2 linked regions of the Homo sapiens genome follow. The protein of the gene in region 1 purifies or fractionates together with the protein of each later gene. This does not show direct contact. Each region holds a gene or a part of one and is shown on either strand. Other genes may lie near its edges.

Evidence for each region. Proteins that work in one complex are often made in the same cells at the same time.
Region 2: the proteins of SERPINB5 (region 1) and VRK1 purify together in Homo sapiens (affinity purification with mass spectrometry; 3 studies listed by BioGRID and IntAct, with this or other methods). This does not show direct contact.

What each region holds. Positions count from the first base shown.
Region 1 is NC_000018.10:63,493,931-63,500,987, reverse strand, and holds part of SERPINB5 (serpin B5), read right to left. Parts: intron 4,047-7,057; exon of another isoform or gene 3,485-4,046; intron 1,869-3,484; coding exon 1,701-1,868; intron 1-1,700. UniProt on the Homo sapiens protein: Tumor suppressor. It blocks the growth, invasion, and metastatic properties of mammary tumors.
Region 2 is NC_000014.9:96,793,157-96,800,391, forward strand, and holds the start of VRK1 (serine/threonine-protein kinase VRK1), read left to right. Parts: upstream 1-4,225; 5' UTR 4,226-4,291; intron 4,292-7,235. UniProt on the Homo sapiens protein: Serine/threonine kinase involved in the regulation of key cellular processes including the cell cycle, nuclear condensation, transcription regulation, and DNA damage response.

The DNA of each region.
Region 1 (7,057 bases):
GAGGGCGTTTTAAGAACGAAAGGTAAAATCCAAGACAGCTGGATAATGGCTGAAAGATCAAAGCATAAAATGGAAAGAAAAAAAACAGAGAGAGTAATGCACCAAAGAAGAAGAAGGACAGGAATTATAATTCAGTTAATAAAGTGGTGGCTAAAACATAATGGCAACCAAAGGAGCAAGCTGGAGACTGGATGGTCCCCTGGAAAGTCAGCAAATCACTGAGGCCCATGTGGATATATAGCAAGTGATCCAGGCCTTCAAAGAGCCCCTTCTTCCTTCCTGGCCAAGGGTTGAGGCCAGGCGGGGTGGAGCTAGAATGGAAGCCAGGGAGGGACTAAAGGGAGAACAGGCCTCAGCCAGCTAAGCAGAGGTGAGGGAGCAGAGAGGAAGCTAAAACTCCATTCACCTGCAGAGAAAACTGCTACTCTTATTTAAACTTTGTGCCTTAAAAATCTATATAAATAAAATAATATAATAACCCTTATCATATAAAATAAAATACTTATATATAATGTGTACTATAAAATAGTATCTGCATAATTCAAAATTTTGAAGCATATATGTGTACGTATTAAAATCTCATAAATGTACAACACAAAGAGTGAACCGTAACGTAAATTGTGAAGGCCAGGTGTGGTGGCTCATGCCTATAATCCTAGCACTTCAGGAGGCTGAGGCTGAGGATTGCTTGAGGCCAGGATTTCAAGACCAGCCTGGACAACACAGTGAGATCCCACCTTTACAAAAAAAAAAAAAGCCAGGCATAGTGCTGTGTGCCTTTAGTCCCAGCTACTTGGGAGGCTGAGGCAGGAGGATCACTTGAGCCCAGGAGTTTGAGGTTAGAGTGAGCTACCATCATGCCACTGCACTCCAGCCTGCCCAGGAGTTTGAGGTTAGAGTGAGCTACCATCATGCCACTGCACTCCAGCCTGGGCAATGGAGCAAGACCCTGTCTCTAAAACAATAATAATAATAATAATAATAATAATAGTAATATGTCAGTATTGGCTCATCAATTGTAACAAACATACCAAACTAATGCAAGATGCTAATAACAGGTGAAACTGTAGGCCTGGGACGGGAAGGGGAGTATATGGGAACTCCTTGTACTTTCTGCTTATTTTTCTGTAGGCATAGATCTACTCTAAAAATAACATCTACTAATTTTAAAAAAAAAGAAAGAGCAAGAGAGAGGATGCTTGACATCAGGTCACATGATAGTGGACCTGGCAGTGCGTAGCAACGTAGTGCCTTAACTGCCTAGGAGGTGAGGGAGACACTCTAGCCTTCAGTTAAGAACCTGGCTCCAACTACCTGGGCCCAAATCCTGATCCTGCACACACCCTTGACTAATTATGTAACCAGTTACCCACCCCTCTGTGCCTCAGCTCCCTCACTGGTAAACAAGAGTGTGGTAACAGTCTCTAACTCATCAGCCTGCTGTAAGAATTAAATGAGATAATGCACGTAGGCAACTTAGCACAGTCCCTAGAACACTGTAAGTGCCAAATAAATTTTGGCTGTTGTTAATATTAAGGAGGAAAGGCCCCAGAAAGAACCATGGGTCCTTGGAGGTGACTGAGCCAGTGGCAATAAGGGAGGGCTACCGGCCCAGCTCTCACGGCCCACACAGACCTGTTGGCACAACTCTTTGCCAAGGCAGGGGGTGCCTTTGTGGAGAGCACCTGCCTTCTCCTTACCTTCTCCAAGCCTGTGGACTCATCCTCCACATCCTTGGGTAGTAGGATGAACATGCTGAGATGCTTATTTTGAAAAGGAAGCTCTATGATCTTACAATTGATACTGTCAATGTTTCCCATACAGAACGTGGCCTCCATGTTCATCATCTGCACTGGTTTGGTGTCTGTCTGTAAAAGGGAAAATTTGGACTGCTTACTTTTCAATTTACACATGCATAAATATATATATATATATATATACACACACGCGCGCACACACACACACATATATACCCACATGTATATATACAGACACACATACATATATACCTACACCTATATATATACAGATACACATACATATATACATACACCTATATATACACATATACATATATATGCATACATACATATACATACATATACATATACACACACCTATATATACACACTTATATATACATACTATATATATATACCCCATACATATATACACACATGCACATATATACACATATATAGGCAAACACATAAATATATATGTACATATATATATATACACAAATTTGCTCTTGACACAGTGTCAGATTATTATGGCTTATAATTCATCATCCACTCAGATCCAAACTGTATTGCACTGAAACCAGAGACTGTCCTGTGAAGAGTTTGTGTTCCTTTGAAAAGTTATTCATATACTTTATAATCTACATGTTACACATTACATGAAGTATATATAATACTGTATTTGCATAGATCAAACCTTAAAAATAAGACTGTATGGCTGTAAATATAGGCAACGTTTGTTATTCTTTACAGATGCCTATGAGATCTTTAAACTATTCCTGGTGGAGCTGACTTGAAAGTAAATTCTACTGCAAACCCACATAACCATTTATACGGCTTTTCCTAATAAAATGCCTAATTTCAAAAACTGGCTGGGCACGGTGCCTCATGCCTGTAATCCTGCACCTTGGGAGACCACTTGAGGTCAGGAGTTCAAGACCAGCCTGGCCAACATGGTGAAACCTTGTCTCTACTAAAAAATACAAAAGTCAGCCAGGCATGGTGGCACACGCCTGTAATCTCAGCTTCTTGGGAAACTGAGGGAGGAGAATTGCTTGAGCCTGGGAGCCAGAAGTTGGTGTGAGCCAAGATCATACCACTGCACTCACTCCAGCCTGGGCAACAGAGCGAGACTCCATCTCAAAACAAAACAGAACAATAACAACAACAAACTTAGCACATAGCAGAACAAAACAATATTTGTTGTGACCTCTCTGTTTGTCTTTGGTTTGAATTGCCCACTCCCCACTGTACTGCCACCTACTCAGATCTGAGCTAATTAACAAAGTCTAAATTGAAGATAAGAACCTTGGTTTTTAGTCCCAAATGTGACATAAACAGATTCTGTGGCCTTGAGCAAATCACTCAATCTCTCCAGGCCTCAGTATTCTTGTCAGTAGAATGAAGAAATTGTAAATTCAGAATAATGGTTACCACTGGGGAGGAAGAAAGAGGAACAGGACAGTGGAGTGAGCAGTGAAGGGATACATACAAAGCAATGCAACTGTTGTTATATTTTTTCTTTAAAATATCTGAAATAATTAAGGCAAAATATTAAGTTCAAAAAGATGATTGATCGGTATATGGGTGTTCGTTTTATTATTCTCTATCATTTTCTGAATGCTTGGAGTATTGCATAATTTTTAAAAAGGAAAATGTTCTTTAAAATTATCTCTAAGTCTTTTTAAAATTATCTCTAAGTCCCTTTGAGCTCCACTGTATGCTTGGCTCTTTTTTTTTTTTTTTCAGAAACGTTGTGTTCAATGGTAAAGCTTAGCACAGCCCAGCACCAAGAATGGTGTGCAGCCGCAGCAGCAGGGACAGGCAGGTGACCCCCACAGAGCTTCACATGGCGAAGAGGATAAGGAAGGCGACCATCAAACAGAAGAGCCCCATGGCCTCAGACAGGGCAAAGCCCAGAATCGCATAGGAGAAGAGCTGCTGCTTGAGAGATGGGTTCCTGGAATAACCAATGATCAAGCTGCCAAACGCTATTCCAATGCTAGCCCCTGAACCAACCACACCAACTGTGTCTGCCTCAGCACCAATAAACTTGGCTGCGGTGTCAATGTCCCAGGAGACAACCTGGTCTAGAACTCCTGTCTGGCCACACCTAAAGTGGGGAGCTGCTGTAGGAAGGCTGTTTAGATGAATGCTCTGGGCTATTCAAGAAGGAGGCAGACACAGGCCGGATTAGACCCCTAGTACAACAGCGGATCAGAGCTGGAGAAATAAGTAATGCCCCGGTGGGCTGCATTTTCTCAGTCTCCCAACTTTAGCCCTTGGTCTCTCCCTGCTCTTCTTAAAGGGAGCCCATGGAAGGGTCTGATCGTTCAGGTCTTTTATGTCCAAGCACTGCCCAGGCCTTTTCTTCTCTTTGCTCCTATTAACACCTGGCCTCCTGTCTCTGCTCCAGAGATGACTGATTTCCTGAAGGAAAATTAATTCACGCTAAGTTGTAAAAGACTGACAGTAATGTTGTATAACCTATTGACATATACCTCCCATGGGATATTTGCCTGTTAACTAAATCTCTTTGGGGAGAAATTTCAAACTTCATATCAAGCCTGCAAGGATAATACTCCAGTAAACTTGCATCTGGTATCTTCAAATACTAAGCTGAACCTTCCCCAATACCTCTCTCCAGCAGAGCTAAACGTTATTTATTTTACTTTTGTATATACCTCTATTTTAACACTTGCCACAGTGTTAGAAATATTATCTAGTGATTGTCTTTCCACTTCCCACCCCAACTAGAATACAGTCAAGGCAGAAACTAAGTCTCATTTTCTACCCCAGCTTGTAGTTTCTCACTGAATATTTGGCTGATAAATAATGGAAGACTTCAACTCTATGTGTAACCAAAAACAGAATTATAGGAAAACATACTACTTTGGAGGTTAACAGATAATTCTTCCCTTTATTTCTCCTAAAGAGGATATTGTCTTAAAATATATTCCTCCTAAAGAAATTTGTCTAAAAATCTCCAACAGGTTAGACTGCTCATAGTTTCTGAATGTGCACATAGTTGTGGCCTCCAAAAACTGTCATCAATTTCACTTATCGGCACTGACTACAGGTACTTTATTTTCTGAAACACATGTTGAGACGACATATCTTCTGAAAAGAGGACCAAATAAAGACTATCTACCCCAGAAAATATAATACAACATATATACTAATATAGATATATATGGATAGATATCTTTATCAGAATAAGTACTATACTAAACTTTTAATGATATAACTTCACCAATTTAGTCTAACCCTTACCGGAGACACCACGGGGCATAAGAAAAGGTTTAGTAATGTCACTCAAAAAGTTCTAGGGTGGACAAAGCAATTCAAAGAAAACAAAGGAGAAGTAATAGCATCTGCATTCAAAAGAAGGGTGTAGCCTCATGCAGCTGTGAATAGCATTTTATTGCTTTATCAAGTGAAACACTGAGAGATCAATGACATTTCAAACTTTTATTAATTCTGTTCATAAAGGCTGAGTTTCCAGGATCTTATATAACCCAGCTTTATGATTTAATAGCAAGAATAAAGGAATAGCACACATTCTTCCTCCCTTCTCAAAAAACACACGTTAATACTTTCTTAATGAAAAAAGTACGACCCTTAGTGTGGTTGACACAAAAGTCCACATTCTACTCATTGACTATTGCAACATTTTCATGGTGTTCCTTCCAGGCTGGCTCTGGGGTCTTGAAGAGAGGCACCATTGGCAACCTGTTTCAGATTTCACTTAAACAGAGTTAGGAACCCTTTGCCAGCCCTTGCTATGGAGGAGAGCCAATCACTAATCAAAGGAGCCAGAAGGGTCACTCTATGACAGCAAAGGCTGTGTGGATGCCGTCAGGGCCAGTGGGGCCAACACCCCTCCCTAACTCACAGTAGAGGCTGGGTAAAGTCACGTTCCACTTCCACTCCAGATAAAAGACAATACTGAGAAGGTCAAAAAGCCATGCTTAAAACTCAAGGACCTGTGTGTGCAAAACACAAGAGTGTGAAGAGCATAAGCTATGTCTCTAGAATCTCAGACAGACCTCTTGTGTGCAGGGTCAATCCTGTCTCTGCAGTCAGCTTTGAGAAGACCACTGCAGTTGGGAAGCTAAACTCAGGAAGTTAGGAGGACCTCCTACCCATCCCTCAGCTCCCATGGATATTTTGAGTTGGTAAGGAGCAGTAACAGTCATCATTGTCTTCTCCCAGTGAAAATGCCCAATGGGTCTTGCATAGGAAACCATGGTAGTCCCAAAGGCCAGTCAGGTTTTGTCTGCTATTGATTGTTTAAGCAAACTGACCCTTAGGGACTGATCATTCATTCAGCAAATTTGCTGAGCACCTACTGATGTGTTAGGGACTTGGCCAGAAATTGTAGACACTGAGGTGAATAAGGCATTGTCCCTACCTTAAAAATCCCATGCGCTAGTAGGGGATCTATGTAAGTAAACAGATTTCACTGTGGAAAAGCAAATTCTGGCAGTGGACAGGGGAGAGTATGAATAAAAATTCCATGGGAACAAAGAAAGAAAGAGTAATGGAAGCCATCCGGCTAACCCAGGCATAGATTGTATCTTGCAGGGCTTTTCCTCATGGATGCTAGCATTAAGAAGGTGCTACTATATTTGGCAAAAACAAGATATTGATGCTAAGTACTCTAACTACTGGGAGAAGCATGAAAACTAGAACTGACGCGTAGGAGCTACAGGTAACTAAGCTACCTTCAAGTATTGTACTAACTGAAGTGCTGCTTCCAGTCTAACACAAGTCAGATCCCACCCACGGAGACCACATCACATCATCATATAGATGTCTGGGTTTTCCAATAAAATGGGTCAAATTTCCAGTCTCAGTTCCTTGATCTCATTTACAAAAGAGGTACTTTACCCATTTCTTTTTTTTTTTTTTTTTTTTTTTTGAGATGGAGTCTCACTTTGTCACCCAGGCTGGAGTGCAGTGGCACAATCTCAGCTCACTGCAACCTCTGCCTCCTGGGTTCAAGCCATTCTCCTGTCTCAGCCTCCTGAGCAGCTGGGATTACAGGCACATGCCACCATGCCCAGCTAATTTTTGTATTTTTAGTAGAGATGGGGTTTTACTATGTTGGTCAGGCTGGTCTCAAACTCCTGACCTCGTGATCTGCCTGCCTCGACTTCCCAAGGTGCTGGGATTACAGGCATGAGCCACTGTGCCCACCCTCTATTAATTATTTAACATATTTACTTCAACAGTATCAATGAGACTGGCCTGCAAAACAGGCCCTTAATTCTTCCCATAATGACTTCCAGTGATGTCAATGAGTAAGCCAT
Region 2 (7,235 bases), on another chromosome or scaffold:
AGTCATGGCAGAAGGGGAAGCAAACACGTCCTTCACAGAGCGGCATCAAGGAGAAGTATGAGTGAGGTGGGGGAAAGCCCCTTATAAAACCATCAGATCTCAGGAGAACTCACTCCTACCCATAACACGTGGGGATTATGGGAACTATAATTCAAGATGAGATTTGGGTGGGGATGCAGCCAATCCATATCAGACACTCTGCCTGACACATGGTAGATCCTCAAAAGTCCTTGCTAAAAGGGAAATAAGGGTTCTGGGCACTTGGGATGAGATAAAGCATCAAGAGCAGGTGGGGGAGTACAAACCAGGGTCAGGGTACTCAGAAGACCCTGATCACATTCTGCCCCTCACTCCTCTCTCCTTTCCTTTCTCCCAGGAAGTAATATTGTCTTGGGCTTTTCTTAGGCCACTTACACTGAGTAAGGACACCCTAGTGACTTTGTTCTGGATAGATCAAAGCCCTTCTCAAACATTACCTCATCTGCCTCCCATCAGCCTGGGGTGGCAGAGAGCCGGTTGGCCCAGAATGATTGCTCCCATTCTACAGATGAAAACAACAAGGACAAGGATGCATAAACTGACTCACGGGTTGAATCAGTGCCTCCTGGGCAGCCCGCCAGGACGATGTTGCTTCCTAATGACTATGGCGTTTGTTTGAAGTTTATAGATTGGGTTTCTGCCACGGTGGAGCCAACACCAACCTCCTCACACTTTCCCAAAGTGCCTGGATTATTTTTATTTTTCTATACCTTTGTGTTAGGGCTCCCAGAGATGAAAAAAAAAAAGGAACTCTGGGGTCTCACTATGCAGCAAATCAATACAGATCCCATGTATAAATTTTTAGTTGGTTTGCCTTTACTGGGAAGCTAGAAGATTTTTATTCACTAGGTCACCCTGCTTCATCTATGATGACCCCTTAACCAGGAATCTCAGTACTAGGCTATGATAGCATTCTGTACAAGTCTCCACCACTGTGCTAAAATTATTTCTTTGTAAGGACAGTCCTCATGTATTGAGGCTGGGCATAAAGGGGCAGTAAAAAGAACATTTGGAAGTAGATTCAGGGGACCAAGAATCATTGTCCAAATTCTTTGAGATTTTTTTCCCCTCTAAGAATTGGGGAAACAATATGTGTGAAAAATCACAGTGCCTGACAAATAGTAGGGCCTCCTTAAGCATTAAACCAGGGTCCCTGGAATTTGGCTCAATCCCTGGCTCACAGTAAGTGCTCTGTAAACATTTGTTTGGACCGTATAGATATTTTGAATATATGGCAGGATTACTTTTATGAACCTTTCCTGCCTAGTACAATTCTTAATTTCTTCTTCTTCTTCTTCTTCTTCTTCTTTTTTTTTTTTTGTTTGAGACGGAGTCTCACTCTGTCGCCAGGCTGGAGTGCAGTGGCGCGATCTCGGCTCACTGCAACCTCCGCCTGCCGGGTTCGAGCGACTCTCCCACCTCAGCCTCCTGAGTAGCTGGGATTACAGGTGCCTGCCACCACACCCAGCTAATTTTTTGTATCTTTAGTAGAGACAGGGTTTCACCATGTTGGCCAAGCTGGTCTCAAACTCCTAACCTCGTGATCCGCCAGCCTCGGCCTCCCAAAGTGCTGGGATTACAGGCGTGAGCCATCAATTCTTAATTTCTAAAGCCCACCAACAGCAAGTCCTCGCTGGTCAATCTTATGTATGACCCTGATCTTGACACCAAGCTATCAACTCATAAAAACGTGCCAAGGGTCTGCTAGCTTTGAGAGTTGTATCCCCATCTATAGCATTTCAGACATGTTGTCTCTGTGACAGCAGCTTGGACTGGTGACCTGCCATGCTCTGCACTGGGAAGACATCTCAGCATGTGTGGATGATGTTGTAGGTGCCGGCAACTGCCTTGGAACAGGGCTGCACGTAAGGAGTGTTTAACAGTGAGCCATCAGATCAAGGGTGCCAGGGCCAAGAGCTCCAGAATAAATACATTCCATTCTTACCTTACACTGTTGCTGATTTAATTGTGCTTTAAAGTCAGTCAATTGTCAACCCAGTGTGGAAACAGGGATGTTTCTTCACGTGTCTATTGTGAGGTTAGGGGAACATGGTCACACTATGACAGATAAGTCCTGTTCCAAGTTTTCTTAACATATGTGTGTATTTGTGTGGGTGTGGGTGTGGGTGTGTGTGTCTTTCTCTCAGTGGATTCTGGCCACAGAGTCTTGCTGGGGGATTCCACACCCATGAGATGTGTGAATCTTGAGACTTTTTTGCTGACAGATTTTATCGAGTGCTCACCTTGCCCATGCTCTGTTAGGGTCTCAACAGGAAGCAGATGACATAATTCCAAATAGGGTAATTTGAGGAAGGTTATTTGCAATGAGACTATTTACAACGGTGTTGGGGGTAGGAACCACGAGGGAGGATGCAGTAACTTGTGGGTCAGCAGCAGCCGTGATGTCATCACTTCCAGACCTGAGGCACAAAGGGAAGGGCTACTACCGCAAACTGGAGGGAGGGCCAGGGAGCAGTGACCTTCAGCTGAGGGACCTGCCAACTGGAGGTGACCTTGCCAGTCAGGATCCAGGGGCTTAACCTACTCTAACCAACCTTTCTTTTTCCTCCAATCTTCTGTGGGGTTCTCCACTGGGCACGCCCCAAAGCCAGGGGGCACAGGGAGCGCGAAGTAATTTGTAGAGGTCAGCCTCCTGGGGCAGAGGGCAGGCAGGAGAAGTATTTGGAGCAGATGAGGGTATCTGGAGGGGAAAATGTAAGACATCAGGCACAATATTGCCCTGTCTAATGGACAGAGTGATTCCAGGTTTTGTAGGGACTGAAGCTCACATAATTTTGGGGGATCTACTTTAAGAAAAATCAGCTGGGTGTGGTGGCTCATGCCTGTAATTCTAGCACTTTGGGAGGCTGAGGCGGGGTGGATTGTTTGAGCTCAGGAGTTCAAGACCAGCCTGGGCAACATGGTCAAACCCTGTCTCTACAAAAAATACAAAAATTAGCCAGAAGTGGTGGCCTGTGCGTGTAATCCCAGCTACTCGGAGGGTTGAGGTGGGAGGATTGCTTGAGCCCAGGAGGTCGTGGCTGCAGTGAACCGAGATCGCGCCAATGCATTGCAGCCTGGGTGACAAAGTGAGACTATATCTTTAAAAAAAAGAAAAAGAAAAGTAAAATCGACAAATAAACCCCCAAAGCTATGTAAACTCATTGAGGGACCTGCGCAAGTGAGGTCCTGAAGCTTACGCTTCATTGGCTTCATTGTTAATCTCCCTCTGCCTGTGACTTCAGTGATTTTGACCTAGAACAATGACCCAGTGCCCAATAAGCTCTCAGCCTCATGGGTGATGGAGACTTAGCTGATTATAATAAACACAATGCGGCCGGGCGCGGTGGCTCACGCCTGTAATCCCAGCACTTGGCGAGGCCAAGGCGGGCGGATCACAAGGTCAGGAGATCGAGACCATCCTGGCTAACACGGTGAAACCCCGTCTCTACTAAAAACAGAAAAAAATTAGCTGGGCGTGATGGCGAGCGCCTGTAGTCCCAGCTACTCGGGAGGCTGAGGCAGGAGAATGGCGTGAACCCGGGAGACGGAGCTTGCAGTGAGCCGAGACTGTGCCACTGTACTCCAGCCTGGGCGACAGAGTGAGACTCCGTCTCAAAAAAATAAATAAATAAAAATAAATAATAAACACAATGCAAACTGTGGCATACGTTGATTACAGATGAAACACTATAGATGATTAGGTAGACATTGAGATATGCTTTGAAATAGGCTTCGAAAAACAGGTAGGATTTAGACACATATCAATGAGTGGGCAGAATAATACTAACACTATCTGCTATTTATTGAGCACCAACTAAGTTTAAAGTACTGCCTATAGATTATTTCATTTAATCCTAACAGAAACAGGAAACTTATTTTACACCCAACTCTCTGCCAATACACTTAATAAATCAAGCTACTACGAACAAGGCTGTAAACCACATTTCCTAGAAGACCAGGGAGCAGAAGGACGGGGATCTCCCTTTGCCGCTAAGAGACTCCAACTCCCAGGATGCCTTGGGAGCGCTGGACCACAGCTCCCGGCATTCCCGGGGAGGCGCGGGGCTAGCGTAGCCTCCGCCCCGCGCCTCGCGTTACCACTCGTCCCGCCCCTCCTCGTCGCCTCCGAGCCAATGGGAAGGCTCCATACTGCAGGGTGCGAAGGGGCCGGCGCCGCTGCCGAGTTACGAGTCGGCGAAAGCGGCGGGAAGTTCGTACTGGGCAGAACGCGACGGGTCTGCGGCTTAGGGTAGGGAGGCCGCAGGCGACACGGCTCGAGGACTCGCGCGCCGAGCCGGGGGCGCGGAGGCGGGCGGCCGGGGCTGGGGCCGGCACTGGGCCTTCCGGGCGGCCTGTGGGTCCACCGGGGTGCGGGAGTCGCCGTCAGCCTCGGTCGCCCCGCGGGACCGCGCTCCGCCGCGTGGCTTCCGCCTGCGCGGGCGTCCGCTCCTTCCTTGTCTCGTTCAGGCCCCGCAGGCGCCCCCGGGGATGCCTGGACTGGCCAGGCCGGCCCCCATCTGAGCTCCACGTTCTGGACGCGCGTGGTGTCGCGGCCGAGCTCGCAAACGCCGCCTCGGGCCTCACCGGGAAGCCGGTTCTGTCAGGCGGGGCTCCGGGTGAACAGCGCAGGCGAGGCCCCTGCCCCGCAGAGCTCACTCTGTAGAAGGGAAACAACACACGCAGCTGCGATGTTTTGCGGATACGGAAATGCTTTCTTAGAAACGGGACAGGCAGTTGCGGGCTAGAGGAATGGGGGCGAGGCTCTTTAGGTTAGGTGATCCGGGAGGGCATCTCAGAGGATGTGACCTTTGACTTGAGACCTGAGAGGGGAGGCCGACCCCTGAGGATAGCAGCCAGGCCTGGGGACCGCGAGGCCGCCCGTTATTTCCCTGTCACATCGCGGGGAGGCCCCGTGATCCTGTACTTGAGGGTCTGTCTGGTGCAAGGCAGTTAGAGCCGCTTGTGTGTTTTGCAAGGGACTTTCATAACCGTTTGACAGTTCCTCCTCATTCTGTCCTTACCTGGCAGGGTGGCATCCTTTACTGTTGCAGCTCCATTCAGGGGCAACGCATAGTTTTTCCTACCACCGAAATAGTATTGTGGTTCTCGTCTCAAAACTCTTAGGTGGTAGAATTAAATTCGACAGACAGCAGCAGAGTCAGACACTATAGGTTCCTGTTGAGGCCACCCATTTTTCTGATGTCCTTTCTTTCAAGTCACTCATTTTTGTTTTCCTTTGTATAGACTCTTCCCTTCCCTTTCCTGTGTCCCTTTCTTGGAACAACTTGGAAATACAATTTGCTATTGGGAGGATGTTGGTTTTAGGGAACTGTTGAAGAACTTCATTAATTATTGTGTGTGTGTTTTTCTTTTCTTCTTCTTTTTTTTTAAACTGGAATTGCCCATCTGTTGAGACTGAAATTCAAGAGTAAAAAAAAGTAGGGCAGCATTTATTTTCAAGAGTTGACAATAAAGGCACCTTTCTTTATGACATGCTGAGCATGATACTTTGGGGGAGAATTTAATCTAGAATTTTGAAGCATTTTCAGAAGGAAGCAAGGGTTCTTTATATAGTCATTTTATGTAGGTTACGTTTATGTTCTTCAAAATGGCATGTAGTGATTGGAATTAAATTTCTGGGTAGATAAGATTATGTTCATCTGTTACCTATAGAAGGGAATGTAACTTAAGTAGTCACTTAATAATAGCTTTCTCTGTTGATGCTACCACAGATGGTATTCTCTACATCTCAACATTGCTGATCAGATTCTGTGTTAATACAGTAACACAACTTGAATTTAATAACAATAAACTTGTGTTAGGCGTTACTGTCAATTTAGTTCTGGTATCCAGTACAAATACCAGTTTTATAGTGCAATGTCTTCTTGTTATGTTCAGTGCTGCAAAAATTATGAGAGGATATTTGTTAAACAAATGAGATAATGGAGTAATGTGTTAAGCATAGAGCCTGGCATATAGTAAGTTAGTAAGTGCCCAGGAAATGGTTATATGGAAAGCTTATGCTAAGTTTTATTCCAGTATGCAAGTGTGTATTTTAAAAATAACAGTAATGCATTCAAAATGTTGACAGACCCTAAAATTAAATTTCTTAAAGGAAATAGGCCAGCTTTTTTTTTTAACTTTGAGAACTAATGTGAAATAATAATAAATATATAAGTGAAATGTCCCAGATGTCTAGAAATGAAAAAACAAGATTTTAATTTTGACAGCTATATTTTTTTTTCTTAAAAGCATCCCTAATAAGATATAATGTACTATGATTAGGATTATGATTTGAAAAATAAAACTTTAAAAATATTTTTGATTTGAAAAATAAAACTTATTTGGAAATGAAGCGAAGCTTTAAGATTTACCTTATATCAAATGAAGGATGTCTCCTGAATTTATGCAAATGTGCAAATGCTTATATCTCCGTAGATCAGGCAGTGAGCCTAATGGGAATTAAATGCTGCCTCTTTGTGCGTGTGAGTGAGGCTTTCATGAAAATTGCTCTTGATGGGTTCTGAGAATGGATTGGTAGCTGAATAGGACTGGAGAATATTTTTCAGACTGGTAGGATATTTTACATGCTTGCCAGGGTTATTTTTCGGAGTAAGGAGAAATGGACTCATTTATTCAGCAGAGATCACGTGCCCCCTATTTACAAGGAATTGTGCTAGGTGCAAAGTCTATTGCTATTGTAGTGTTTTGCTGAAGCAAGTTTTCTTTGTTTTAAATTAGTGTACGTCTTTTTTTTTTTTTTTTTAACTTTATCTAGCATCCAGCACAGAATAATCCAATAAATGTGTAGGGCGCCTTTGAAAAACTGCACTATTAATGTTAAAATGTAGAAAATGTTTAATAAAGGTACAAGATTAATTTAAAAGGGTGATAGAACCCTAATAAAACATTTAGGTAGGTGTTGTAACCAAGATGTATTTTTACTCTAGGATAAGTTTGGCTCTTTTGATCAAAATTCCTGTGAATATATTTCTACTTGCCATTATAAAGATGCAGAGGGCTCTGTCCTTTGAATTTTTTCCCTTTGGTGCTTGAATGATATTTAAGCACCCAGCATTCTGAAGTTGCTGTTTTGAAGTAATTTCATGCACTTTCCCAATTACTCCTGCTCCATCTCTCCCAATGTTGTCTTAAATCTTTGCACTCAAATTCAAGCACATCCTACTCCTCCT